2 separate regions of the Homo sapiens genome follow, and region 2 is linked to region 1. The links come from fine-mapping of genetic effects on gene expression. A gene starts in region 1. The other region holds a variant in brackets. All regions are shown on one strand. Distances are between the middles of the regions. Region 1 holds the start of RFK (riboflavin kinase). Region 2 has its middle 22 kb from the start of GCNT1.

Region 1 (15,278 bases):
TATAGACACAATTAACCCCTAAACAACACACTATCTGATTCTCAAAAGCAATGGCTATTTAACAAGATGTAAAAGGACAATAACATATCAAAGAACTTTCACACACCTAAAGATAGCATTTAGCAGCAAGTTAGTCAGACAAAACAAACACAAATATTTTCACATTTCCTATGTTTGTTTTTAACTTTACTTCATAAAGCCACTGATAATTGAGGTTTCTTTCAAGTATAAGATTTCTAAAATTAAAAACTGTTTTTGACATATTTTTATAAAGAAATAAAAAGCAAAACGCAATCCAACTATTTATATGAGTCCCTCTTCTCCAACAGCTTTAGATGTTTTTCTGAGTACTTTTTACACAGAATATTTTTATTAAAATCAGTTCTAATTCATTTATGCAGATTAGGGGAAAATGATTCATAATAAATTAACTTTAAAATTACCTTCTATCTGCTTCTACCTCTATCCCCCCATCACCACCAAATCTGTTGCTACAGTGAACTGTAGCAATGTACTGTTTGAGGGGGCCCAAAGCATCTGTAATCTTAATTTCCCACATATTAGTTAGTAGGAGGAAAAATCCACAGTATGAAGGCTATTTAACTAAAACTTTATGCTTTTCCCTCAAGCTGTAAGTACTCTTTAGCATTAAATTACATCGTGCATATACAACTACACCCATTTAGATTTGCCTTGGAATATAATTTCAAGGCCTTAAATATTAAAAATAATTTTATAACTATTTCATAGTTTAATTGGCTCTTAAATAGTTTTGCTAGGGAGGAAACATTTTGTGTTCTTTAAGAAATTGATATGTGTAAATGTGTTCACTTAAATCTTGAGAAAACCTAAGGATGAAGTCTGTTGTTTTGTTTTTCCTAAAAAAGGAAAAAAGAACCAAAGAAAAATGTTGAAGAACAAGAATATTTACCATTAAAAAGAAGAAACATTATCCAACAAAAAGGAGACATATAGATTTGAAAACACTTATTTTACTGTCTTCAACAACAACAACAAACAGATAGGCAGGGGAAGTCCAGAGGACTCAGAATTGAAGCAGCTCTATACAATAATGAAGGTGGTACAATGATGTGACTGCAAAGAAAATGACTAAAACAAAACTTTACAAACATCTTCATGTTTGTAATGTATTAATGCACAAAATATCAAAAATAGAAAGTCTGAGTTTCTTCCCCGCAGGTTTATGATAAACTATCAACCTTCTATTTAATGCATTTCCTTTTTTTTTATTTATAGAGATGGAGTCTCGCTATGTTGCCCAGGCTGGTCTTGAACTCATGAGCTCAAGCAATCCTCCCACCTCGGCCTCCCAAAGTGCTGGGATTACCGGTGTGAGCCACTGCACTTGGCCTTAATGCATTTACTTTTATAAGCCTTCTCTGTTTAGAAGTACACACTACACAAGTACATACATGCTGGCATTTTACCATGAAAATTTTAGTTTTCATCTCAAACTAGTGACTTGCCTTTTTACCCATACTTATACACATGTAATACCTTTCTAGTGGTACATTTTAATCAATATATATTTTTTAAATCTTATTTTTAACTCAATCTTTTTAGTGCTATGATATGATGGGCTTAATTTAATAGTTGAAGCATGATATGATAACAACATTGTACGGTTTAAACTAATTCACAACTGTAGTAAAGTGTTTGATTTTCAGTATATAACCAAGATGATGCTGAACAGTAATAAACACAGAAACACTAGAAAACAGTGAATGAATAAATAATACAATTTTTCATCAGTGGCCATTCATTATTTTGCTTTTAGAAACCTGGAAGAAATTGTCTTCTTTGATTTTCAAATGTTCTGGTAACTCTAGTCGTTTCTTAGCTTCTTCAATATCACCTTGAATTGCTGAAATAAGTGACTCTGCAGAGAGAATATACCAGGTAAAAATGATGAAAAACCATTAACATACTTTTTACTACTACTCTGTTTAGCCAATCCTAAAAACTCACAGGCTGGCAGTATCTCTGCACAGGGTAGATACCCAATAAATGTTTGTTCCATCACTCCTTCCAGGCCTAAGTCAATGGTACACAAAAGATATGTCCCTAGGCCGGGGGCAGTGGCTCATGCCTGTAATCCCAGCACTTTGGGAAGCTGAGGCGGGCAGATCACCTGAAGTCCGGAGTTCGAGACCAGCCTGGCCAGCATGGTGAAACCTGACTCTACTAAAACTACAAAAATTAGCGGGGTGTGATGGTGGGTGCCTGTAATCCCAGCTACTCAGGAAGCTGAGGCAGGAGAATCGCTTGAACCTGGGAGGTGGAGGTTGCGGTGAGAGGGGGCGTCACTGCACTCCAGCCTGGGTAACAAAGAGCAAAACTCTGTCTCAAACAAACAAACAAACAAAGGTATGTCCCTAATCTTATATTTTAAGAGAAAGGCATAGGCATAAATGTACACTGCAAATATCAAATGGAGGAAAAAAGCATTCACTATTATTTTTGGTTGGTATTTACACTTGTAAAAGAAACTTTATAACAGAGTTAAAACTATCACACTACACTAATACATACCTGGTAACATGTTTCAAATGTTCTCTGATTTACTATATCTCAAACTTCACACATTTTGAAAGATTTCATTAACTTCATACCGCTGGAGAGAAGCAGCCAGCCTGCTAGGTTCAAAGCTAGACTCCGTTATTTACTATGTGACTTTGAGAATGTTACTTAATCTCTCTGTGCCATTTCCTCATCTGAGAAATAGGCAAAATAATCCCTCACAGGTGAAAGAAGATAGATTCACGTAAAGCACTTAAAACGGTGCCTGGCATATATTAAATGCTCAAATATTATCTGTCCTGCCATCATTATTACTGGTAGTAGTGGTAGAGTTACCTGTGGTAGCAGTAGTAGTATTTAAGAAGATCAAAATAAGAACTTACCTAAAGAATCAAAGTTCTTTTCTGGTCTCAGGTAGCCAACAATGGCCACATTGAGGATTTCCCCATAGAAGTCCTCTTTGAAGGTATGCATGATATGTGTTTCCTATAGTCAAGAAATGTTACAAAGAGTGCTATCAGACTACAGTGTACTGAAATCTGAAATACATCTTCATGTTTATGGTGAGTTAATTTAAATGAAACAATCAACACTCCTTAAACTTTTAAAGATTCAGGTTAAAATCTAAGTGCAGTTTTTCCTAAATTTTCCCAGCACTCCTGTTTGGATCTTATAAACCTAACTGAGTGAGGTGACAGTGTCTGGCATGATTTGCTGTTACTTAAAAACAAACAAACAAACAATAACAAAAAAACTGACACGTATCCAAGGAAGTAAGTATCTTATCAAGGTGAGAAAACAGGACACCAAAGAGGGAATGAGCAAAGTATTAAAAGATGTTACTACTAAACAACTAGTTGTTAAGGTCAGTCAGCATTTGCACACGTCTGACACACAACATGTATGGAAACTTCAGAGTTTGGCAGAGCTGAGGACTGAAGGGGCAGGAGAGCCAATGCAGCTTCCTGATCAGGGAGTAAAGTGGCAAAAGGGTACACAGCACATTAAAGCAAAATGCCGCATGACGTAGAAAGTGCCTCAGAATCTAGTTCAGCTAAATCATCTGGGCAGTACTGTGGTTAAGAGGTTAAGAGCACTGACTTAGAGTCAAAAGTCTGGGTTCCCACACTTGGTTAACTGTATAACTAGCTTCCGCGGGGCTCAGTTTTCTCGTCTGTAATGGGTGGGGGGCGGCTTGAGTTAGAAGATACATAAAGTGCCCCATGACTTTGGGGCTATGAACCAATATATTCTTTCTTTTCAGTAAACATTTGAATAATAAAAAAGAAACTAAGATATGTAAGACTGGTTGGGTGCAGTAGTTCATGCCTGTAATCCCAGCACTTTGGGAGGCGGAGCCAGGAGGATCACTTGAGGTCAAGAGTTCAAGACCAGCTTGGCCAACATGGTGGAACCCGGTACTCTACTAAAAACACAAAAATTAGCTGGGCATGGTGGCGCATGCCTATAGTCCCAGCTACTCAGGAGGCTGAGGCAGGAGAATTGCTCAAACCCAGGAGGCGGAGGTTGCAGTGAGCCAAGATCACACCACTGCACTCCAGCACTCTAGCCTTGGCGACAGAGCGAAGACTCCATCTCAAAAAAAAATTTAAAAATAATTTTAAAAAATATGTAAGACCCTGACACTGACAATTACAAGACATTATTGAGAGAAATGGCAAACTTCCCAAAGTAATCTACGAATTCAATGCTGCCCCAATCAAAATCCTAGCAGGTTTTTTAAAATAGGAGAAACTGACAAGTGATTCTAAAATTTATATGGAAAAACCAAAATTATTCATGAAAATCTTGAGAACAAAACTAGAGGGCTTATACAACTAGGTATCAAGACCTATGATAAGACAAGCAAACCAAGTATGTATGTGAATTTTTGGACTCACACACATATAAGGTCACTTGATTTATGTCCCAGGTGACACTACAGCACTGTTGTGAAAGCATGGTATTTTCAATGAATAGGCTGGGTCAATTCTACATCCATATGGAAAAAAATATTAATTTAAATCCCTATCAGATACCATACTAAAAAAGTCAATTTGAAGATATGTCAGTCAATTAAACTTTTAGAAAAAAACCACAGACAAGTATCTTCATGACTTTGGAGTAGTCAAAGATTTCTGAAACAGATTATATAAAGCACTAACTATAAAAAAAATATTGAACTGGATTGTATTAAAATTAAGAACCTCTGGGCTGGGTGCCATGCTCATGCCTGTAATCCTGGCACTTTGGGAGGCTGAGGCAGGAGGACTGCTTGAGCCCAAAAGTTTGAGACCAGTCTGTGTAACATGCTGAAATCTCATCTCTATAAAAAAATTTAAAAATAGCCAAGCATGGTGGCACATGCCTGTGGTCCTAGCTACTCGGGAGGCTGTGATGGGAGGATCACTTCAGCCCAGAAAGTTGAGGCTGCAGTGAGCTGAGATTGCACCACTGCACTGCAGCCTGGGTGACAGAGCAAGACCCTATCTGAAAATACAAAACAAAACAAAACTCTGTTCTTCAACACACCATTGAGAAAAAAAAAAAAAAAACCACACACACACACACAATGAAAGAAATTTGTAATACAACAATACACAGTTCCAACAAAGGAAGTGGATCTAGATGTGTTACTAAGAACTTATTTAAGGTCAGTAAGATAACGCTTTTTTTTTTTTTAAAGGACAAAGGTCTGGCACAGGCACTTCACAGATGTGTGTTACTGGCAAAGGCAAGCAAAAGTTCAATTTTCCACTGGTAAGATATGCCTATGTTTCAAATTCAATTTTTCCTAACACTCAAAAGGCATTCCTTAACTGGCTGTATAATAACATTTTTGTTATCTAAGTAGCTAAAGACAAATTAGTTATGGGCTATTGTCCCCTCCCCTTCTTTTCCTTCCTCATTCAACAGAATGGTATTTTGTGATCTTTCGATTGTTTTCCTTGTCTCCAAAAAATAATTTTCAAATCATTAATACTGAAAAATAACTGAAATACTGAGCAAAATGTTAAGTACTTCTGCGTCATTACTATTGCTTACGCCAGCATTTAGCTCTGTAGTTTTCCAGCAGTGACACACTTCACTTCTATTAACTCCACACAGAACAAAATTTAGCTTCACTGTAATTTGTTTTTGCCACACATTTGAGCTGACAAAAGATTCAGCCAAATCTAACAGATAAAACACTGAAGTTGTGGGGTCCTGTAAAGAGTAGGGCAGAAAAGTATACCCTCAGGTGGTTTAAAAAGGAAAGAGAAAAGCACCAATGTGGGACTGTATCAATAAGCACCATCCTCCATCCACCATCCATGTAGTAAACTGTTTTATCTTAAGAGGGTGACCAAGCGCAATTGATGCATGAAGTAAATGGTGAATGAAGTGCATTAATTGTGGCAAGCTCAATTTTATGAAACAGGCTTTTAAATCATTTTTATCTTTGGTCAAGTGAGTCTTTCACAGACAGCAATTATCAAAGTCAGTATTATAATTTTGGTTTGTAACTCCACTCTTTATTTTCTACATAATTTAAAAAATAAATGCATAAAAAAACCAATTATTAATCTTTGTTATTGGGTACCACAATGTATAAGGATGTAATCTGAGCCAGATGCAGGCAGTGGCATGTACCTATAGTCCCAGCTCTCTGGAGGCTGGAGGAGGATTACTTGAGCCCATGAGTTTGAAGCTACAGTGTGCTACAACCTGGCCTGTGAACAGCTACTGCACTTCAGTCTGGGCAACATAGTGAGACCCCATCTTTAAAAAAAAAAAAAAAGATGCAATTTCTGAGTTCTGTATGCTATTGAAATTAAGTTGGTATAAACTCAAATTAAACTTTTAGAATTTCAGGATGTTAAATATAAACCCCATGGTAACCACAAAGACAGTATCTATAGAAATACACAGAAAGCAATGAGAAAGGAATTAAAATGTCACTACAAAACAAAACAAAACAAAAAGCACACTACCACAAAAGGCAGTAATAGAGGAAATGAGGGACATAAAAGTTATAAGGCATATAAAAAACAAATAGCAAAACAGTAGATGTCCCTCCTTATCAGAAATTACTTTAAATGTAAATGAATTAAACTCTCCAATTAAAAGACAGAGATTGCCCAAAATTCCAGTATTTGAACTACGTTGTGATTACCACTGATAAGCTATTTCTGTAACGAATACTGTAATATATTATTCTAAGTCATCATACCATTTTCGGTTACAGAGCAAAATATAATGCTTACCATAGACTTCTTCGTATTCTTGTAATATGGGTTCCATCCTATGCTCACCACCATCTTATGGACATCTCCACTTCCAACACTGGCCCAACCATAGTAAATACCAGTGGATATATCAGCTGGAAGATTATCTACCACTTGCTCAGGAAAATTAGCTAAACAACAGAAGAAAATATTTTGAGTCTTACAAATTTCGTATTAAATGCCTGTAGCCGAGTGCAGTGGCTCATGTCTGTAATTCTAGGACTTTGAGAGGCCAAGGCAGGAGGCTCATGTTGAGCTCTGGGGTTTGAGACCGGCCCGGGTAACATAGTGAGATCTTACCTCTATTAAAAAATTAGCTGGGGATGGTGGCCTGCACCTATAGTCTAAGCTACCAGAGAGGCTGAGGCAGGAGGGTCAGTTGAGCCCAGCAGATGGAGGCTGCAGTAAGCTATGATCGCACTACCACTGCACTCCAGCCTGAGTGGCAGAGCCAGATTCTGTCTCAAAATAATAATAAGAAACAAACATTTGTAAAAATCACATGCAAGGCTAATGTAAATCATTACATTCACAAGACTCCTACAACTTTGCCTGTAAGTATCAATCCCATCCTTCCATTTTCCGGCTCAGATTTCCCTCTCCTATTCATGTGAATAGGTTATGAATAAAGTACCAGGTAAGTATATAAAGCTCTCCAAAAAAATCCATACTCTTTGAGTAGGATGCAAAAAACAAGTACCAGAGTAGATGGATTTTTTCAGATCTGTTCTTTCCTAACCAGGTACTGAATCACCTGAAAAGTTTCTTTCTTTTTTTTTTTTTTTTGAGACGGTGTCTCACTCTGTCGCCCAGGCTGGAGGGCAGTGGCACGATCTCGCCTCACTGCAGCCTCCGTCTCCTGGGTTCAAGCGATTCTCCTGCCTCAGGTTCCCGAGTAGCTGGGATGACAGGCACGCGCCACCATGCCCAGCTAATTTTTGTATTTTTAGCAGAGACGGGGTTTTACCATGTTGGCCAGGCTGATCTCGAACTCCTGAGCTCAGATGATCCGCCCGCCTCGGCCTCCCAAAGTGCTGGGATTACAGGCGTGAGCCACCACGCCCGGCCAAAGCTTCTTATTTTTCAAATACACAAGCTCAAGGCTGACTTAACAAGTCAAGACGCAGCTCTGGCATGTATTTCTAAGGATGAATTACAGTCAGGTCTCGATTATTGAAATTAATGTAGACAGACCAAGAAGGTTAGCTGACTCTCATTCAACTACCTATGTTATCATTTGGACATTACATAATTACAAATTAAAAACAAAACCACCTTAGACCCGGCTTGCGAGTTCAGCCGTTCTGGCCCACGTTACGTCTCTAATGGGCAAGACAAGCGCAATGCTTGACCAACTGTACCTTGGCTGGCCAAGGAGGCGTGAACGGGGAATCCTGCGATTCATCTCGGGCTTCCGGCCCTCACCACCCCTCAACCCCGTCCCCGCGGAGCTCGGAGCCAGAAGCAGGGACAAGCTCCCTCAACCGAGCCAACGGTCCTCCGCCACAGACAAGGGGATGCGGGAGGAGGAAGGGTGTGCTCTCTGCCCGCGGTCCGGAGGCCCCACGCCCCGGTCCCAAGTCCCCGGCTGCCGTCTCTCCCCGCTCCCCACGTGACCCGGCCCGGGGGACTCTGGCCGCCCTGCTCTCACCTGTGGGGATGCCCAGCTGCTTGGAGCCGCGGCCGAAGCCCCGCACCACTTGACCCCGGCAGAAGTAAGGCAGGTGCCTCATAATGCAGTCCGCTCGGGGAATGGGCTGCGGCCCGGTCTGCGCGTCCTGCGGAGCCGCCGTCGACGCGGCGCCCAGACCCCGGACCAGCCGGGGGACAGGAGCGTGAGCTCTGCCTGCCGCGGGGGCGCACCAGTGGCCGGACGACGCCGACCACAGGCCACTGCGAATCCCTGACGCCGCCGACCCAACAAATACCGCCGGGCGCCTGAGGAGCTGCGTCTCCGCTGGAGGGCAGCGGAGACAGCCGAAGTAAGTGCCGGGTGTGAGCGGGGTGGGGGGAGGGGGCGGCCCGAAGCGCAGAGCCGGCCTCCGCGCCGCCGGCGTGCGCTCCCTTCCTCAGCCGAACGCCTCGAGCCCGCTCGGCTTCCGTAGCCCCGCCCCATCATGGCCCCGCCCCGCCGCTGCCTCGCCCGGCTCCCGCCGCAAGCTCCCGCTGCAGGCTCCCGCCCCAGGCGCCTAATGTCTGGATCCCGGGCTTCGTTTCAGCCCCTGGCGATGGGAACTAATGTGGAAACCCCGTTTTCAGCCTGAGAGCCGCGAAAGCACAATTCTCGAACAATTCTGGTTTTTTTTTCTCCTTCCTCCTGTTCATAACAATCCGGAAGCCAAAGTGAGACGCTCTTTAGCTCCTTGGCAACCGCTGGGTTGAACGTCAGGCATCGCTCGTTCCGTTCGCTCTTTAAGTATTTATTAAAGCTCCAAAATTCAGCTCAAAGATCGCCTCTTCACAGAGGCTTTTCCTGGCCGCCCTACCAGAAGCGGTCGTCCTCCAGGACCACTGACCACGTTCTGGAGTTATTAATATATTCGAATGTAAGCTCCAAGGGAGAAGTCCCTGTCTGTGACGCTGTTAACCCCAGAGACTAGTGGAAGGTTACCGACATGGGCGGTGACTGTCCCCTCCAGGCTGTCTTCTTGACAATTTCACAAGCCCGATAACAGGCCGTCCCTCTACTGCAATGCAGATAGAGGCCTTCGTACCCTCGGAACTGTAAATACGCACGCTCCTAGGGAAGTAGCTCTGGGCTCACTCACAGGATATGCAGGGTGCAAGGTTATAAGAAGGTGCATCCTCTTAACGTCTCGAAGACAAAGAAGTTTTTTATTTATTTTTTTAAATTTTTAATCAATGGAATCCAGAGAAGTTTAATTTTTTTCTTTTTTGCTCTATACATTTGTATAAAATTCTGTGCAGACCGTGTAGTCTCTTTCTACCTTACATGTATGCATCTCTGATAAGATTTACCTGATATTAAATTTATGTTCTAGGCCAGGCTTGGTGGCTCACGCCTGTATTCCCAGTAGTTTGAGAGGCCGACGCGGGAGGATTGATTGAGCCCAGGAGGTCGAGGCTGCACTGAGCTATGATAACGCCACTGCACTCCAGACTGGGCGACACAGTGAGACACCCTCACCCCTTAAAAGAACTAGAGAAGAAGAAGGAAGGGAGGGAAGGGAAAGGAAAGGGGAAGGGAAAGTGAAAGGGAAGAAAAGGGAAGGGAAGGGAGAGAAGGACCCAAAGAAGCAATTATGGTCAGTTACTTATCTATACGGAATTAAACAAAGAATAATGAGAATAACGATAATAGTAATACCGGTAGTAAGAGTAGTAATAGCAAGTTGTGAAAAGCAATTAAGTTATCTGGAGAGGCTTAAGAGTTATTTTAGCAAGGTGTGTACAGGATTCTCTCACTCTTGACTCCCGTCCTTAATAAGAGTGCTGCATTCCTTCTAATATAGGGAGGATGTCTCTCATATGGTAATTTCATCTGCTTCTAAGAAACAGAAAAGAGGTCAGAATGATTTTTTTGTATCTATTGTTTTTCAAGTGCTTTTAATTCAAAATAGTCAATATGCAAGAATGGTATATTTTTAACTTCATCAGCAGTGATACACCTAATAAGAAAAGCCTGGAGGTGAGAACTTGATAAATCATCCCTGGGTCTTACGCCACTAAGCCCTAGGTTGCAAGAAGGTATGAGAATTAAATGAGATAAAATAATTAAATGAATCATAGGAGGTAAATGAGGAGGGGTGGTTTTAAGAATAGAGAAAATGCTAAGTATTTTTCACACTGTCTCATGTAATCCTCTCATCAGCTTTGTTGGAAAGCATTAACCTAAACGTATAAAAATGGGCGGGGCATGGTGGCTTACGCCTGTAATCCCAGCACTCTGGGAGACCGAGGTGAGCGGATCTCTTGAGCTGAGGAGTTCAAGACCAGCCTGGGCAAAATAGGGAGACTTCCGTCTATCCAAAAATTTTAAAATAAAAATAAGTAAGAAAGAGAGAAAAAAGAAAGAAAAGAAAAGAAACAAGAAAAAAAAGAAGAAAGGGGAAAGAAAAGAAGAGGAGAAAATAAGAAAGAAAATTTTAAAAATCAGCCAGGGCCTGGCACAGTGGCTCATGCCTGTAATCCCAGCACTTTGGGAGGCTGAGGCCGGTGGATCACTTGAGCTCAGGAGTTGGAGACCAGCCTGGGCAACATGGTGAAACCCCGTCTCTACAAAAAATACAAAAATTAGCCGGGAGTGGTGGCGCTCACCTGTGGTCCTAGATACCCTGGAGGCCGAGGCACAAGAGTCGCTCGAACCTGGCGGCAGTTGCAGTGAGCTGGAGATCACGCCACTGCACTCCATATGGGGCAACAGAGCGAGACTCTGTCTCAGCCAGGTGGTGGTGGCTCGTGCCTATAGCCCCAGCTACTTGGGAAACTGAGGAGTGAGGATCGCCTGAGCCCCAGAATTTGAGGCAGCAGTGAGCTGTGATTGAACCACTGCACTCCAGCCTAATGACAAAGCAAGACACGGTCACTAAAAAAATAAATAGGCCGGGCGCAGTGGCTCTTGCCTGTAATCCCAGCACTTTGGGAGACCGAGGCAGGTGGATCACCTGAGGCCAGGAGTTCAATACCAGCCTGGACAACATGGCAAAACTCGGTCTCTACTAAAAATACAAAAATTAGCCAGGCATGGCAGTGAATGCCAGTAATCCCAGCTACTCGGGAGACTGGGGCGGAAGAATCGCTTGAACCCAGGAGGCGGAGGTTGCTATGAGCCGAGATTGCTCCATTGTACTCCAGCCTGAGTGACAGAGCAAGATTCCTTCTCAATAAATAATACATAAATAAATAGATAGATTTAAAAAAAAAAAGGAGAGTCTTGTAGAATGTTTAAGATGGAGCAGTCAGGCTCCAATCTTTAAAACTACCATTTACATGTCAAGTCATATGGGTAATTACTGTGTTATCAGCATAGGATATAGAAGAAAGAATTTTTTTTTTTTTTTTTGAACCAGAGTCTCACTCTGTCACTCAGGTTGGAGTGCAGTGGCGCAATCTCGGCTCACTGCAACCTCCACCTCCCGGGCTCAAGTGATTCTCCTGCCTCAGCCTCCCGAGTAGCTGGGACTACAGGTTTATGCCACCACGCCCGGCTAATTTTTGCATTTTTAATAGAGACAGGGTTTCATCATGTTGGCCAGGCTGTTCTGGAACTCCTGGCTTCAAGTGATCCACCTTCCTCGGCCTCCCAAGAAGGAAGAATTCTGATCATTTTCCACCACCGCTCAATAGCGTTCAATGGCTCCTCCCCTCTGACTGAAGAATAAACCCTCCAAGAGTTGTACTTCTAAGAACTCCCATCAAGTACTCAATCTGTTGATCAAAGCAGACCCCTCCACCTTGCTTCAGAGGCCAAAGCATATGCTTCAAATAATTCAATAATTATTCTGTAGGCTATAGGATTTATAATTTTTCTTCTTCATTTGACTCCAAAAATATGCTACCTAGCATTCTCAGTAAATCTAGAGTTGAGAGTCTATGTGTCTTTGCCAAACTTACTGCTTTTAACCAAGGAAGTATTCTAAAACGTGTTTTTTATTTCCCCCTCTGAACTGCACTTGCACATCCTTTCAGCTGCCTGTAGGGAAAGAGTCCACTTCTCTGGTTTAATTTGTCTCTGTAGAAAGAAGGATCACAAATAAGACTAAAGAGAAAGTAGAACTGGCAGCTTGTGAGGGAAAAGAAGGCTTATTCTAAGTAAGCAATGAAAAATGAATCTGAAGAATTCTTAAAATTCAGCAATAAGAAAATAAGCAACTCAATTAAAAAATGAGCAAAAGATCTGAATAAGCATATGAAAAGATGTTCAACATCATATATCGTGAGGGAAATACAAATTAAAACAACAATGAGATACTACTATATACCAATTAGAATGGCCAAAATTCAGAACACTGACAACACCAAATGCTGGCAACCATGTAGAGCAACAGGAACTTTCATTCATTGTTGGTGGGAATACAAAATGGTACAGCCCCTTGGAAGATAATATGGCAGTTTCTTATAAAACTAAACGTACTTTTACTATGTTATCCAGAAATTGTGCTCACTTATATTTAATCAAATGAGGTGAAAACTTTTATCCACACAAAAACCTATTTGTTTTTGCTTTCCGCGCTACCTACAGAGGGGCCCATACGGCGTTGTTCTGGATTCCCGTCGTAACTTAAAGGGAAACTTTCACAATGTCCGGAGCCCTTGATGTCCTGCAAATGAAGGAGGAGGATGTCCTTAAGTTCCTTGCAGCAGGAACCCACTTAGGTGGCACCAATCTTGACTTCCAGATGGAACAGTACATCTGTAAAAGGAAAAGTAATGGCATCTATATCATAAATCTGAAGAGGACCTGGGAGAAGCTTCTGCTGGCAGCTAGTGCTATTGTTGCCATTGAAAACCCTGCTGATGTCAGTGTTATATCCTCCAGGAATACTGGCCAGAGGGCTGTGCTGAAGTTTGCTGCTGCCACTGGAGCCACTCCAATTGCTGGCCACTTCACTCCTGGAACCTTCACTAACCAGATCCAGGCAGCCTTCCGGGAGCCATGGCTTCTTGTGGTTACTGACCCCAGGGCTGACCACCAGCCTCTCACGGAGGCATCTTATGTTAACCTACCTACCATTGCTCTGTGTAACACAGATTCTCCTATGCGCTATGTGGACATTGCCATCCCATGCAACAACAAGGGAGCTCACTCAGTGGGTTTGATGTGGTAGATGCTGGCTCGGGAAGTTCTGCGCATGTGTAGCACGATTTCCTATGACCACCCGTGGGAGGTCATGCCTGATCTCTACTTCTACAGAGATCCTGAAGATATTGAAAAAGAAGAGCAGGCTGCTGCTGAAAAGGCAGTGACCAAGGAGGAATTTCAGGGTGAATGGACTGCTCCAGCTCCTGAGTTCACTGCTACTCAGCCTGAGGTTGCAGACTGGTCTGAAGGTGTACAGGTGCCCTCTGTGCCTATTCAGCAGTTCCCTACTGAAGACTGGAGCGCTCAGCCTGCCACGGAAGACTGGTCTGCAGCTCCCACTGCTCAGGCCACTGAATGGGTAGGAGCAACCACTGACTGGTCTTAAGCTGTTCTTGCATAGGCTCTTAAGCAACATGGAAAAATGGTTGATGGAAAATAAACATCAGTTTCTTAAAAAAAAAAAAACCTATTTGTTTTTACCCCAATCCATTTTTACCCCTACTCCCACTGAATGCAAATGGAATGGATGAATGGATGTTTTATTTCTATTTTATTTTATTTTTATTTTGTTTCACATGGATGTTTATAGCAGCTTTATTCAGAATTGCCAAAACGTGGAAGCAACTGAGATGTCCTTCAATAGGTGGGATAAACAAGCTGTTGTATATCCATATAATGCCATACTATTCTGTGCTAAAAAGAAATGAGCTATCAAGCCACAAAAAGACCTAGAGGAAACTTAACTGCATATTACTAAGTGAAAGAAGCCAGTCTGAAAAGGCTACATAACACATGATTCCAATTATATTACATTCTGAATAAAACTATGGAGACAGTAAACAGATCAGTGGTTACCAGGGTTTGGGGAAGTTGGAGGTCGGAGGGAGGGATGAATGTGAAGCACAGGGGATTTTTAGGGCAGTGAAACTATTCTGTATGATACTGTCCTCATGAATATATGACATTATGCATGTATCAAAACCCATAGAACTATACAGCAACAGCAGCTGCCAACCTAAAACTGCTCTAAAAAGTAGAGTCTATTAGTTTTTGAATAATTAATCTAAAAATTTCTGACTTGGAGTCTGACATCAACGTTCACACCTTCCACACCTAAATAGTTACCAAGTCTCTCCCAATCCATTTTTACCCCTCCTCCCACTGAATGCAAGCCATGACCCCTTACCTGCACAGGTGTAGCCAACTCTATTCTCCCAGCCTTAGATTTGACACTAGTCTCTCTCTACTGCTTTTTCGTGCTGCTATAACCTTTCAAATGCCAATCTGATCAAATCACACTAAAAGTCATGTTCTGCTTCCCTCTGTCTTAGGATCAGTCTAAACTAAACCATTGTTCACAGATTCTCCCTATCACACTCCTCAGCTCCTGCCTCTACATTCTCTACCCAGAAGCCCTAGGGAACTTTACCAATTCCTCTAACTCACTCTTTGGACTTCATATAAACAGGCTTCCTAGCATGAGACAATGCTACCAGTAGGCCAGAGAGCAAGGGAACCCTGTGAGTCAGGTATGCTTGACAATGCCTTCCAGAGAGGTGGGACTTGAGCTGGAGCCTTGGGGCATGTGTGAATCGACTAAACAGAGAAGAGGAAAGAAAAATGTCTAGCTAGGGAGAGTTCCTGTGATCATATTTCCAAGAAAGGGATGTGCAGTAAACAAGCCAGAACTACTAAGCTCTACTGAG
Region 2 (15,278 bases), 44 kb after region 1:
TACCTATTTCCTTGGGCACATGTGTGAGATTTTCTCCAAGGTGTATATTTGAGATTTGAATTGCTGAGGCATTGAGTATATGCATCTTTAACTACACTAGATATTGCCTCAATGCTTTGCAAAGTGGTTGTATCAATTTATACTCCCATTGTGTATCAAGTAGTTTTTGCTGTGTAGCAAATCATTCCTTAATACAGTGGCCTAAAAACCAACATTTATTATTTCTCATGATTTTTTGGATTGGCAGCCTGTTCTCCTGGGCTGGTGATCTTGGCCAGGACTGGATTTTCTAAGATAGTTTATTCATATGTGACAGCTGGAGTCTCTCTCATCATTTAGGAGGCTAGGTCCAGCTTGCTCACATACAAGCAGAAAGATTCTTGCCAGCAAGAAAGTACAAGCCCTAATGAATAGAAGGTTTTCAAGCCTCTGTTTTCTTTCTTTTTTTTTTTTTTTTTTTGAGACGGAGTCTCGCTGTCTCCTAGGCTGGAGTTCAGTGGCGCAATCTCGGCTCACTGCAAGCTCCGCCTCCCGGGTTCCTGCCATCCTCCTGCCTCAGCCTCCTGAGTAGCTGGGACTACACGCACCCGCCACCACGCCCGGCTAATTTTTTGTATTTTTATTAGAGATGGGGTTTCACCATGTTAGCCAGGATGGTCTCGATCTCCTGACCTTGTGATCTGCCCGCCTCGGCCTCCCAAAGTGCTGGGATTACAGGCGTGAGTCACCATGCCCAGCCTCAAGCCTCTATTTTCATCACATTTGCAAATGTCCCATTAGCCAAAGCAAGGCACATGACCAAGCTCAGATTCAAGGGGCAGAGAAATATACTCTAGCCTTTGGTGGCAAAAGAGACAAAATTATATAGTAAAGCGTTATGTATACAGGAATGGGAGAAATAGGTGGCTGTTTTTTTGCAACCTACTATATACTGGCAGTGGGTGAAAGTTCTATTTCCCTACATTCTTGACAACACTTGGTATTACATGACTTTTAAATTTTTTGCCAATCCGAGAAGGATTTAAAAAATCTCATTATTGTTTCTATTTTAATTTGCATTTTTCTGGTCATTAGTAAGGTTGTATATCTTTTCACATAATTATTGACAGAACACTCATTTTTTTTTTAACAGGGTTTCACTCTGTTGCCCAGGCTGGAGTGCAGTAGTGGGATCATGGCTCCCTGCATCCTTGACCTCGGGGGCTCAAGTGATCCTTCCACCTCAGCCTCCTCAGTAACTGGGACTAAGGGTGCTTGCCACCATGTTCGACTAATTTTTTTTTTTTATTTTGGTAGAAATGAGGTCTCACTATGTTGCCTAGGCTGGTCATGAACTCCTGAGCTCAAGCCATCCTCCTTCCTTGGTCTCCCAAAGTGCTGGGATTACAAGAATGAGCCACTGCACCTGGTTAGTCCTCTTTTTTTTTGAGACCAAGTCTCACTCAATGGCCCAGGCTGAAGTGCAGTGGTGCAATCTCAGCTCACTGCAACCTCCGCCTCCCAGGCTCAAGTGATTCTTGTGCCTCAGGCCCCTGAGTAGCTGGGAATACAGGTGTACACCAAACCACACCCAGCTAATTTTTGTAATTTTAGTACAGATAGGGTTTCACCATGTTGGCCAGGCTGGTCTCGAACTCCTGACCTCAAGCAATCCACCTACCTTGGCCTCCCAAAGTGCCGGGATTACGGGCATGAGCCACTGTACCTGGCCTCATCTCTTAAAGTAACATGCACACACATACACAGGAAAAAGAATGAAAGAATATATATTGGAGTAGTTCAATTTGGGTAGTGGAGTTACAGATGATTTTTATTTTCTCATATCTAAATTTTCTAAAATGAACATCTGTTACAGAGGGAGGAAAGTAAATGAATATGTTAAAACGTCCTGGCAAAATCCCCAACTGGGCTAACAATAACTAGGTGCACTGAAATTTAGTTCTGACACTAACCACATGGAGTTAGCATCAGACTCCACAAGGTAAGGCTCAATCCTCCACAAGACTGCCCTCACATCAGATGCCAGCCCTTAGCAGGGACCCCAGGTCATCCATACTCTGACCTACTCGCTACAGATTTGGGGGTCCCATGATCCACTCAGTTTCAGTAACTTGCTAGGACAACTCACAGAACTCAGGAAAGTGCTACACTTATGATTATAATTTTATTATAAAAGTTACGCATAGGGTGAGGTCTGGGAGAGAACACAGAGCTTTCTTGCTCTCTCCTCTTGAAATCAGGAAACATCACCCTCCTAGCACATCAATGTGTTCACCAACCCGGAAGTCCCACTGAGCCTCCATGACCAGAGTCTTTTATTGGGGTTTCATTATCTAGGCATGATTGATTTAATCACTGTCCACTTGATTGAACTCAATCTCCAGCCCCAGTCGCCTCTTTGGAAGTCGGGAGGTCAGGCTGATATCAAAGCGCCAACCCTCAAATTAAGCGGTTGGTCTTTCCAGTGACCAGTCCCCTAGCTGTAGCCATCCAAGAGCCTGCCATTAATACCTCATTAACACAACAAAGACTCCTATCCCTTAAGAAATTCCAGGCCAGCCACGTTGGCTCATGCCTGTAATTCCTGCACTTTGCGAGGCGAGGTGGATGGATCAATTGAGGTCAGGAGTTTGAGACCAGCCTGGCCAGCATGGTGAAACCCCATCTCTACTAAAAATGCAAAAATTAGCCGGGTGTGGTCATGGGCACCCATAATCCCAGCTTCTTGAGAGCCTGAGGCAGAAGAATCGCTTAAACCCGGGAGGCAGAGGTGGCAGCAAGCTGAGATTGCACCACTGCACTCCAGCCTGGGCAACAGAGCAAAATTCTGTCTCAAGAAAAGGAAAAAAAAGGAAAGAAATTCCAAGGGTTTTAGAAGCTCCTTGCCAAAAGCATGAGACAAAGACCAAATTTTTTATTGGGTGACCTAAATATATTACATTTAGTATATTACATAAAATACATTACATCTAGTCCAAAAAAAATGTAGGCAATCCAAATTAAAATTGTCTAGTGAAAATATGGGCAATTGAGTCTTAAAATGTCTAATATCTAGTTTAATATATTTGTTTGTTTTTTGTTTTTTCAAGACAGGGTTTCACTCTGTTGCCCAGGCTCAAATGCAGTGGTGTAATCATGGCTCACTGCAGTCTCAACCTTCTAGGCTCAAGCGGTCCCACCTCAGCCTCCAGAGTAGCAGGGACTACAGGCACGCAGCACCATGTCTGGCTTATTTTTGTATTTTTTATAGAGACAGGGTTTCGCCATGTTGCCCAGGCTGGTTGAGAACTCCTGAGCCTAGGTGATCCGCCTGCCTGGGCCTCCCAAAGTGCTGGGATTACAGGCGTGCTCCACTGTGCCCATCCTTAGTTTAATATTGTCTTTCACATACTGATAGCGGTAGGAGGCAGTCAAATGACTAGGCAGATGGGGTGGATCCCTGGTAAAACCCCACCTTCAAGCCAAAGGCAGTTTAAAGCCTGAAAGCCAAGCTAAAAGTCTTGCATAAACATAGGAACTGGATTGAGAATCTCTTTCTATTTGTCATGCTTTCCTTTGATTGATCCTCACCCTTCACCTATTTTATATATACCTTCTCTTTCCTAATTGTTTTTTTACAGTCGTGCTCACCTTTGAACGGTGCCTTTGTTTTAGGCTTTTTTGGATACTCACAAACCAATTAGCATGCACTCCTGCCTTCTGAGCCCACAAAAGCCCCATACCCAGCCACACTGAGAGAGAGACCACCCGACCAAGTGGGAGACCACCCTTGTGGCCCCTCTCTACTGAGAGCTGTTTCATTAGCTGTTTCATCACTCAATAAAACTCTTCTCTGCCCTCCTCACCCTTCAATAGTCAGCATAATCTCATTCTTCTTGGATGCGGACCAAGAACTTGGGACCCCTCCGAATGCAGGTACAAAGACGACAGTAACACTGTAGCCCTCTGCCCTGCCCCCTCTTCGGAGCTCAGCAGTTGCCCCACGTAACGGAAAGCAGCAGGGCCAGGTCATCCCCAAACCTGTGGGCTGGAGTGGGGCAATGGGACTGACAGAACTGTTAACGTGCCCCTGTTCATCAGGCTGTGGAGGAACTAAAACAGCTGTTAGCACACTGTAACACCCCCTCTGGGGCTTTGGGGTTGCAGGTTTTGCTGTTTGTGTGCCACGGCGTACCCCTCATCTGTATGCTGGAGTCCACCATGGGAGTCACTTGCCACATGCCTGGGCCAGCCACTAGCCCCACATGTAGACTGCTCCTGTGCTGGCCTTTGGAGAGGCCAGCCAGACCCTGGACTCACTTGCCCACACACCCCCTCCTGCCAGGGGCTGAGTGCTGCAGTCGCGGTGGCCACAGGATCCATGCTGGAGTGCAAGCCAGGCACAGTTTGGCAGGCTGAGTGGGCAGGGTGCCTCTTGCAGGGAGCCCTGGGCTGAGGGAAGCCTGGGCAGGGGTATCACCGGCTGGAGGTTTCCTGCTGGCAAGGTGGTTGAGAAAAATCCTGTGTCAGTACCAGATAGTAGGATGTGTGATGGATTTAAGACAATAGGGGATTCTGACCCTTCTACTTTCTAGTGGCTGTGACTTCAGCCCTCAGTTTGTTGTCCTTCAGTGAACCTCCTCATATCCCTCAATTGTTGCAAAGTGCCACTGAGCTGATGCCTGTGAAAGAGCTCTGTAAAATTCAAAGTTATATAAAAATAATACAGCAGTTCCTCCTTATTCTTCGGTTCACTTAATCTATAACCTAAGAAGTAGAAGTTACAACTACATGCTGCATGACTCAGATCAGAGTCACATCTCTCTCAAGGCTTATAGTGTTTGGGGGATTTCAACAGCTTTTACATTTTATTTTCACATTATGCATAGGAAAAAGCATAGCACTTACAGGGTTCAGTACTATTAAGGATTTCGAGTATCCACTGGGGGTCTTGGAACGTATCTCCTGTGGATAAGGGGGGACTAATGTAGTATGATTATCATCATCAACAGAAGCTATGACACCAGGATAAATAGGCTAGAGAGAGCTCTCTGAGCCATAGGTCATGTTCAGGACTCACTATTGTGGGAAGTCAGGGACCCCGAATGGAGTGACTGGCTGGAGCCATGGCAGAGGAACATAAATTGTGATTTCATGGACATTTATCACTCCCCTAATAATACTTTTATAATTTCTTATGCCTGTCTTTAATCTCTTAATCCTGTTATCTTTGTAAGCTGCGGATGTATGTCACCTCAGGACCCTGTGATGATTGTGTTAACTGTACAAATTGATTGTAAAACTTGTGTTTGAACAACATGAAATCTGATTGTAAAACATGTGTGTTTGAAAAATATGAAATCAGTGCACCTTGAAAACTAACAGAATAACACCGATTTTAGGGAACAAGGGAAGACAACCATAAGGTCTGACTGCCTGCGGGGTGGGGCAAAAAGAGCCATATTTTTCTTCTTGCAGAGAGCCTATAAATGGATGTGCAAGTAAGAGAGATATCGCTAAATTCTTTTCCTAGCAAGGAATATAATATTAAGACCCTAGGAAAAGAATTGCATTCCTGGGGAGAGGTCTATAAACAGCCACTCTGGAAGTGTGGTTGAGATAAGGACTGAAATACGCCCCGTCTCCTGCAGTACCCTCAGGCTTATTAGGGTGGGGAAGAAATCCCACCCTGGTAAATTTGAGGTCAGACCAGTTCTCTGCTCTCGAACCATGTTTTCTGTTGTTTAAGATGTTTATCAAGACAATACGTGCACAGCTGAACATAGACCGTCATCAGTAATTCTAATTTTGACCTTTGCCTTGTGATCTTTGCTTTTGTCCTTGCCCTGTTTCCTCAGAACCATGTGATCTTTGTTCTCCCTTTTTCCCTTTGAAGCATGTGATCTTTGTGAGCTACTCCCTGTTCATACAGCCCCTCCCCTTTTAAAATCCCTAATGAAAATTTGCTGGTTTTGCGGCTCGGGTGGGCATCATGGACCTACTGATATGTGATGTCACCCCTGGCGGCCCAGCTGTAAAATTCCTCTCTTTGTAGTCTTTCTCTTTATTTCTCAGACTGGCCAGCAATTATGGAAAATAGAAAGAGCCTACGTTGAAATTTTGGGACCAGTTCCCCCACTGGTCCCAAATTCAGCCTCAAGAAGACTGAATTAGTCAGCTCCCACTACCATAACAAGTTACCACAGACTCTGTGGCTAAAACAACAGAATTTATTTCTTCACAGTTCTGGAGGCTAGCAATCCAAGAATAAGGTGCCAGCAAGTTTGGTTTCTGGTGAGGCTTCTCTTTCTGGTTTGTTGATGGCCATCTTCTCACTGTGTCTGTCCTCTTGTGTGTACCCACAAAGAGAGAGAAAGAGTTCTTAGGTGTCTTTTACTCTTCTTACAAGGACACTGGTCCTATTGTATTAAGGTCCCAGCCTTATTACCTCATTTAATGTTAATTACATTCTTAAAGCCCTATCTCCAAATACAGTCACATCAGAGGTTGGGACTTCAACATATGAATTTGGGGAGGGACACAATTAGGTCCATAACAAAGACCATAATCTTGAGTGGAAAAGAGTCCTAAGATTAGGGTTTTCACACAGTGAAGGGTCTTAAATTTATTGGTACATTCAATCCTGGAGCACTTCCTTTAGTAAGAATGACAGAGTGCTAAGCAGTAGTTCCCATATCTTTTTTTTTTTTTTTTTTTTTTGAGACAGAATCTCGCTCTGTCACCCAGGCTGGAGTGCAGTGGCACGATCTCGGCTCACTACAACCTCTGCCTCCTGGGTTCAATTCTCCCTCCTCAGCCTCCCCAGTAGGTGGGATTACAGGCATGTGCCACCATGCCTGGCTAATTTTTGTGTTTTTAGTAGATATGGGGTTTCACCATGTTGCCCAGGATGGTCTTGAACTCCTGACCTCAGGTGATCCACCTACCTCGGCCTCCATCTTATAAGAAAACATCTGTGTAACAAATTAGGATAGGGTTGTCCAAAGGGTGTTTGAGGAACATACCTTCCACAAGTGGTGGGAATTTGGGGGAAATTACACCATTTCCCTGCTTAGAAAGTCACAATGCCTTGGGAGGCAGAGGCAGGCAGATCACTTGAGGTCAGGAGTTCAAGATCAGCCTGGCCAACATGGTGAAAGCCCATCTCTGCTAAAAATACAAAAATTAACTGGGCATGGTGGCATGTGCCTGCCTGTAATCCCAAGTACTCCAGAGGCTGAGGCAAAAGAATCACTTGACCCTGGGAGGTGAAGGTTACAGTGAGCTGAGATCGCACCACTGCACTCTGCACTCCAGCCTGTGCGACAGAGTAAGATTCCATCTCAAAAAAAAAAAAAAAAAAAAAAGGCACAATAGCATATTAAAAACTGAAAATTTCGTCCATTTACTCAAATAACATTTATTGATTTATTGAATGCCTACTATTTTCCAGTCACAAGCTGTGAGTAAGACAGGAATTAATA[G/A]GAGCAACCTAACCTAATATAGGAAGTAAAGGCAATGGATAGTTGAATGCTGACTCCCTCAAAATGGATGGATAGCACCAGGCTTAGTTCAGTGCTTGTTGAGGTAAGAGAGATTGTCAGACAGAAAACCAAACACTGCATGTTCTCACTCATAGGTGGGAATTGAACAATGAGAACACTTGGACACAGGGTGGGGAGCATCACACACCAGGGCCTGTCGTGGGGTGTGGGGAGGGGGAAGGGATAGCATTAGGAGATATACCTAATGTAAATGATAAGTTAACGGGTGCAGCACACCAACATGGCACATGTATACATATGTAGCAAACCTGCACATTGTGCACATGTACCCTAGAACTTAAAGTATAATAATAAAAAAAGAAAAGAAAAAAATAAATATATGGGGAAAAAAAGAGAGAGAGAGAGATTGTCAGAAACATGTGAACAAGAGCAACTCCATCTTGAATAGGAGCTGGGTAAAATAAGGCTGAAACTTACTGGGCTGCATTCCCAGACGGTTCAGCATTCTAAGTCACAGGATGAGCTGGGAGGTCGGTACTTAGATACAGGTCATGAAGATCTTGCTGATAAAACAGTGTGCAGTAAAGAAGCCGGCCAAACCCCACCAAAACCAAGATGGCAATGAGAGCGACCTCTGATTATCCTTACTGCTACGCTCCCACCAGCGCCATGACAGTTTACAAATGCCATGGCAACGTCAGGAAGTTACCTTATATGGTCTAAAAAGGGGAGGCATGAATAATCCACCCTTTGTTTAGCATATCATCAAGGAATAACCATAAAAATGGGCAACCAGCAACCCTTGGGGATGCTCTGTCTATAGAGTAGCCATTCTTTAGTCCCTTACTTTTCTACTATACTTGTTTTCACTTTACTCTATGGACTCGCCCTGAATTCTTTCTTTTGTGAGATCCAAGAACCATCTCTTGGGGTGTGGATCAGGACCCCTTTCTGGTAACAAGATCATTTTCATAACAAGAGTCTTACTGGCTTCTTGGAAGGGTGAGGGCAAAGCAGAATATTTATTAGGTTTGTGGAATCTGGAGTAAGGTGGCTATTTTGATATAGAGCTTGATTAGGATTGGACAAGTATGTGACACAATGGTTTAGCATTGGTGGACACAGCAAGGTGAGAGTTCCCAAGCATGTCTTAAAGAGTAAATGATCTTTTGATTGTATCTATTTTCCTTGGAAAGTGGTACTTACTTTAATGAGGATAAATTGAGTAGTCTAGTGTTTGGACTAATGGATTTTCAGAAAGTTCCTAGAACAAATAAAATTTTTGTCCATTTGAACCCAAAAGTATCTGAGACAGGTCTCAAGCAATTTAGAGACTTTATTTTGCCAAGGTTAAGGACATGCCTGTCACACAGCCTCAGGAGGTCCTGATGACATGTGCCCAAGGTGGTTGGGGTACATCTTGCTTTTATACATTTTAGGGAGACATAATGCATCAATCAATACATGTAATATTTACGTGGGTTTGATCTGGAAAGGTAGGACAACTCAAAGGGAGGTGTGGGGGGTGGCTTCCAGGTCATAGGTAGATTTAAAATTTTTCTGATTGGTAACTGATTGAAAGAGTTATCAGTAGAAAGGAGACACGAATGTCTGGGTTATAATAAGGTGTTGTGGAGACTAAGGCCTTATCAGGCAGTTGAAGCTTCTCAGTAGCAGACTTTGTAGAGAGTAGACTGTAAACTTTTCTTATCAGACTTAAGGTCTGTGTTGATGTTAATGCTGAAGGGGTATAATGAGGCATATGTGAGCCTCTCTTCCATCATGACTTGAATTAGTTTTTCAGGTTAACTCTGGAATGCCCCTGACTGAAAGGAGGGGTTCATTCAGATGATTAGGGGAGCTTAGAATTTAATTTTTTGTTTACAGCCATTTCATCCTTCTGAGTAAAAATTTCCTGAAATAAGAAAGTCAGGTAAATGTACCAGGGGTTTCCAATCTTTTGGCTTCCCTGGGCCACATTGGAAGAAGAATTGTCTTGGGCCACACATAAAATACACTAACATTAATGATAGCCAATGAGAAAAAAAAAAAAAAACTCATAATGTTTTAAGAAAGTTTATGAATTTGTGTTGGGCCTCATTGAAAGCCCTCCTGGGCTGCATGCAGACTATGGGCCTTGGGTTGGACAAGCTTGATAGATAGTAAGCCGTGTATGTGTGGGCAGTAAGTTTTGATTTCTCTAAAGAATCTTAACTTCCCTTACACATTTGACCACAACACTCTTTTCTTTTCTCGTCAGACTTATTAACATTTCAAAGAACAGACCATGATAAAACATGAAAGTAGGAAATAATTTCTATGAGAGTGTTGTAAGCCAGTGGTTCTGAAAGGGTGGTTCCCAGACCAGTAGCTTCAGTATCACCTGGGAACTTGTTAGAATTCCTCACCTACTAAATCAGAAACTCTGATGTGCAGTCAGCAATCTGTGTTTTCTTTTCTTTTTCTTTTTTTTTTTTTTTTTTTTTGAGACAGTCTCACTCTGTCTCCCAGGCTGGAGTGCAGTGGTGTGATCCCAGCTCACTGCAACCTCTGCCTCCCAGGTTCAAGTGATCCCTCCACCTCAGCCTCCCTTGTAGCTTGGATTACAGGTGCGTGGCACCACGCCAGGCTAATTTTGGTATTTCTAGTAGAGATGGGGCTTCGCCATGTTGGCCAGGCTGGTCTGAAACTCCTGACCTCAGGTGATCTGCCCAACTTGGCCTCCCAAAGTGCTAGGATTACAGGCGTGAGCCACCATGCCTGGCCCCATTTGTGTTTTTAAAAAGGAAAAGAAAAAATGAAAAAAAAATTTTGTCTGCATTTCCTTAGTAGAGATGGAGGTAAATCAGTTGTTGGTAAAAGCTGTGTGCGTCTTTCTTCAGATTGTGACTCATATTCTTATGGCTCTCTCCTCTTTGAATTCTTTGAAAACAGTGCTCTCCTTGCACTAATATGAATGCAATAGTGAGGAATATAAAATTTATTCAATATTTTAGAAGGAAGCTAGAAGAGAGAAGTTGTACCACATGATATCAAGATTGCACTTAAAAATAAACCAAGGCTGGGCGCATTGGCTCATGCCTGTAATCCTAGCACTTTGGGAGGCTGAGGTGGGCAGATCACCTGAGGTCAGGAGATCGAGACCATCCTGGCCAACACGGTGAAACCCTGTCTCTACTAAAAATACAAAAAATTAGCCGGGCTTGGTGGTGGGCACCTGTAATCCCAGTTACTTGGGAGGCTGAGGCAGGAGAATCGCTTGAACCCAGGAGGCGGAGGTTGCAGTGAGCCGAAATCCCACCATTGCACTCCAGCCTGGGCAAGAGCGAAATTCCGTCGCAAAAATAAAAAAAAAAAAAAAGAAAAAATGAATAAACTAACAAACCTTTTGAGGTATCTCATGTCCCAAATCTCTCTTCTTGGCTCAGCATCTCTTCCTGCTCCTGACCCACATCACCTTCTCTCTGAATTTTCTTCTAAGAGCAGTTCAGTTCAATACCCACATGACTTTCAAAAGTCTTAACCTCACCTACTAGTTAATATAATCTTCAAGGAATTTAAAGGAATTAAATTGAAGACTTTGTTTGCCTTGTGAACAAAAAATTCCCCAGTTGCCAGGTTTCACTAAAGCTGTGATGAATGAAGGTGACATCAATCTACATTTCCCTGATTTATATTTGCTCCACAGGTGAGGAGGAAACCTGGGTTACAGTGGTACCATGTTTCCAGTGTGTCCTCATCAGATTCCGGTCCTTTTCACTATGATGTTGCAACCTGTGTGTCCCCCTGCCCTGTGTGGGGCTGAGGTCCTGCACCCACCTGTCCTGTCTCCTTCCTGATGGTTGCTAGGACCAAAACCCAGAGGGGAGAATGAGCTGCACTCACAGGGGATGACTTGGGGACTGGGTCCAGAAAGTGGCTCATCCACAAGAGCTTGTTTAGAGCTACCTAAGAGGAGTCTTCCCTGGTCCCAGACTTGGTTGCACGTTAGAATCAGCTGGGGAGCTTTTAAAAATGCCTATGCCTGCCGGGTGCAGTGACTCATGCCTGTAATCCCAGCACTTTGGGAGGTTGAGGCGGGTGGATCACAAGGTCAGGAGATCAAGACCAGCCTGACCAACATGGTGAAACCCCATCTCTACTAAAAATACAAAAATTAGCTGGGCATGGTGGTGCATGCCTGTAATCCCAGCTACTGAGGAGGCTGAGGTAGGAAAAATTGCTTGAACCCGGGAGGCGGAGGTTGCAGTGAGCCAAGATCACACCACTGCACTCCAGCCTGGGCAACAAAGAGAGACTCCATCTCAAAAAAAAACAAAAAAACCTATGCCTAGGCCACATTCCATAGCAATCACATCAGAATCCTTGGTGCAGGACCTAGGCATCAGGATTTTTGTTGTTGTTTGAGACGAAGTCTTGCTCTGTCACCCAGGCTGGAGTGCAGTGGCGCGATCTCAGCTCACTGCAACATCCGCCTCCCGGCCTCAAGCAATTCTCCTGCCTCAGCCTCCAGAGTAGCTGAGACTACAGGTGCCCACCACCATGCCTGGCTAATTTTTTTATTTTTAGTAGAGACGGGGTTTTACCATGTTGGCCAGGCTGGTCTCAAACTCCTGACTTCAGGTGATCTGCCTGCCTCGGCCTCTCAAAGTGCTGGGATTACAGGCATGAGCCATCACCACTCTCAGCCAGCATCAGGATTTGTTAAGGTTCCATAAGTAATTCCAGTGGGTAGCAATGGTGAGAACCATCAGACTAGATGATGTACAAAAAGTCCACATTATGCTAAGACATTATAACAATTTTGTTCAAAACACTTCACATAATTAAATGGGCTATATTTTCATCATAGTATCTGTTTCGTATGTGGGAAATTTGAGACACGAAGAAAGTGTGAGTCATACCAGACAGACCATAGGTGAACTGTTAAGGAGGGAGAAGCCGCAGTGTCACCTTCCACAGTCCTGCTCCCATTAAGACCTATGAAGTGGAAAATGCAGATTATTCTTTGAGGTTTCCTGGGACCAGAAAAGGTCAGAGACTCTTAATGGGTAATGCAGACAACTGGAATGCAATCATCAGGTATTCATTTCTGTTTTAAGGTTTTATGTCTGAGAAACCTGAAACCTGAAGAAGTAAAGCAATCATGATTTTTTAAAAACTTAATAATATGGTTTTGGATTTAAAAAGAAAGACTGACTCAGAGCTGGGGAAAACACTCACTTGTGATACGGATCAATGTGAAAACAGCTTAACTCTGTTCCATGGCAATTCGCACAGTGTGACTCAGAGACACCTCTCTTCACCAGCTCTGGCTCAGGGGATGTGAAGCCAGAAGCAGAGGTCACAGTGACTTCATCTGAGAAGGACTTAACTGACCATTGCTGGTTTTGAAGCCGGAGGAAGGCCCACAGTCAATGAATGAGAGAGGCTTCGAGAAGCTAGAAATGGCAAGGAAATAGATTTTCCTCTAAAGCTCCCAGAAAGAAACACGGTTCTGCTGACACCTCGATTTTAGGCCAGTGAGACCTGCTTCAGACTTCTGACCTACAGAACGGTAAGAAAATAAATTTGTGTTGCTTATAGCCATGCTGTGTGTGGTAGTTTGTTACAGCAGCAATAAGAAACTAACACAGTTGTGACCAGGCGCCATGGCTCATGCCTGTAATCCAAGCACTTTGGGAGGCTGAGGTGGGCGGATCACTTGAGGTCAGGAGTTCGAGACCAGCCTGGCCAACATGGCAAAACCCTGTCTCTACTAAAAATACAAAAATTAGCTGGGCTTGGTGGTAGGCGCCTGTAATCCCAGCTACTTGGGAGGCTGAGGCAGGAGAACCACTTGAACCCGTGAGGCAGAGGTTGCAGTGAGCCAAGATCATGCCACCGCACTCCAGCCTGGGCGACAGAGTGAGACTCCATCTCAAAAAAGAAAGAAAGAAACTAACACAGTGGTTTTATCTGATTATCCGATTATCAGAAGTAGTAAGAGAAATGTGAAAATGGTTCTTAAGTTACAAAGTACCATATGAAGATAAAGTATTCATTCATTTATTCTCTTATTTATTCATCAAATATTATTGAGCTCCTCCTACTTTGAGCCAAGCACTTTTATAGATGTTGGGAATATACTAAAGCCAAAATGGATTTAAAACAAAACAAACACTGGCCAGGCTCAGTGGCTCATGCCTGTAATCCCAGGCTGTATGTGGGGCATGAGAGGAAGCAGGAGATGTCAGGTGAGATACAGCAGTAGCATGGCCCAAGGTGGTAGCAATGGAGATGGGTAAAAGGGATCCTAATCTGGATATATTTTGAAATAGAGGCCAGGTTCAATGGCTCACACCTGTAACCCCAGCAATTTGGGAGGCCAAGGCAGGCAGATCACTTGAGCTCAGGAGTTCGAGACCAGCCTGGCCAACATGGTGAAACCCCGTCTGTGAAGACCAGCTCGGTTGGGGAGACCCTAACCCAGTGGTGCTAGAGGAATTAAAGACACACACACAGAAATATAGAGGTGTGAAGTGGGATATCAGGGGTCTCACAGCCTTCAGAGCTGAGAGCCCTGAACAGAGATTTACCCACGTATTTATTAACAGCAAGCCAGTCATTAGCATTGTTTCTATAGATATTAAATTAACTAAAAGTATCCCTTATGGGAAACGAAGGGATGGGCCGAATTAAAGGAATAGGTTGGGCTAGTTAACTGCAGCAGGAGCATGTCCTTAAGGCACAGATTGCTCATGCTATTGTTTGTGGCTTAAGAATGCCTTTAAGCGGTTTTCCACCCTGGGTGGGCCAGGTGTTCCTTGCCCTCATTCCGGTAAACCCACAACCTTCCAGCATGGCTATTATGGCCATCATGAACATGTCACAGTGCTGCAGAGATTTTGTTTATGGCCAGTTTTGGGGCCAGTTTATGGCCAGATTTTGGGGGATTTGTTCCCAACATCCGTCTCTACTAAAGATACAAAAGCTAGCCAGGTGTGGTGGTGCATGCCTATAGTCCCAGCTACTTGGGAGGCTGAAGCAGGAGAATCGCTTGAACCTGGGAGGCGGAGGTTTCAGTGAGCCACTGCACTCCAGCCTGGGCAACAGAGTGAGACTCTGTCTAAAAAAAGGAAAGAAAGAAAGAAAGAAAGAAAGGAAGAAAGGAAGAAAGGAAGAAAGGAAGAAAGGAAGGAAGGAAGGAAGGAAGGAAGGAAGGAAGGAAGGAAGGAAGGAAGGAAGGAAGGAAGAAAAAAAGAGCCAGAAGCATTTGTTGAATTGGGTGTGTGCTTTGTGAGAAAGAGAGGCAAGACAGATGACTCCAGGAGTGTTTGGCCTGAGCAACTAGGTGGAGTTGTCAATGAGTAAGTCCGGGAGAAAAGTGGGAGAAGCAGGCTCCGGGAGAAGAAGATAAGGAGCTGCGTATTGGACATGTTTGTTTGAAATGCCAATTTTACCTGTAAAGGGAGATGTTTACTAAGCAGTTGGAAATATGAGTCTGGAGTTCTGAGGACAGGTCCAGACTAGAGATAGAAATCAGAGCGATGTCGAGGTTAAATCTAGATGTACTTAACAGCATGAGGTTGGATGAGGCCATACAGAAGGGCTGTAGAGAAAAAAGAAGAGATCTGAGGCCTGAGTCGTGAAGCTCTGCAGGGTTAAGAGGCCTGGGGGAAGAGGAGGAAACTGAAGGCTGACAAAGAGTGACGAGAACAAAACCATGAGGATTAAGAGTCCAGGTGAGGAAAAAGGGTTTCAAGGTCAAGGAGTGACGATTTGTCTGAAATGCTGCTGAGAGTACAGGTAAAA

The links.
Region 2: its variant is fine-mapped to the expression of RFK in whole blood (INTERVAL, PIP 0.98).

What each region holds. Positions count from the first base shown.
Region 1 is chr9:76,385,630-76,400,907 of GRCh38, forward strand. RFK (riboflavin kinase) reads right to left here and starts at 8,797. Exons shown (of 4, transcript NM_018339.6): 1 at 8,461-8,797; 2 at 6,789-6,940; 3 at 2,925-3,027; 4 at 1-1,900. The coding sequence starts at 8,542. The coding sequence ends at 1,770. It also overlaps a transcript of GCNT1 not described here and the pseudogene RPSAP9. RefSeq lists silencers at 3,424-3,718, 8,246-8,735, 8,776-8,855, 8,876-8,935 and enhancers at 8,068-8,881, 8,744-9,038, 9,216-9,455.
Region 2 is chr9:76,429,275-76,444,552 of GRCh38, forward strand. It overlaps a transcript of GCNT1 not described here. Among named protein-coding and RNA genes, the nearest start is that of GCNT1, 22 kb to the right of the region's middle. RefSeq lists an enhancer at 9,567-9,656. The variant G/A (reference allele first, on the strand shown) is at 7,464.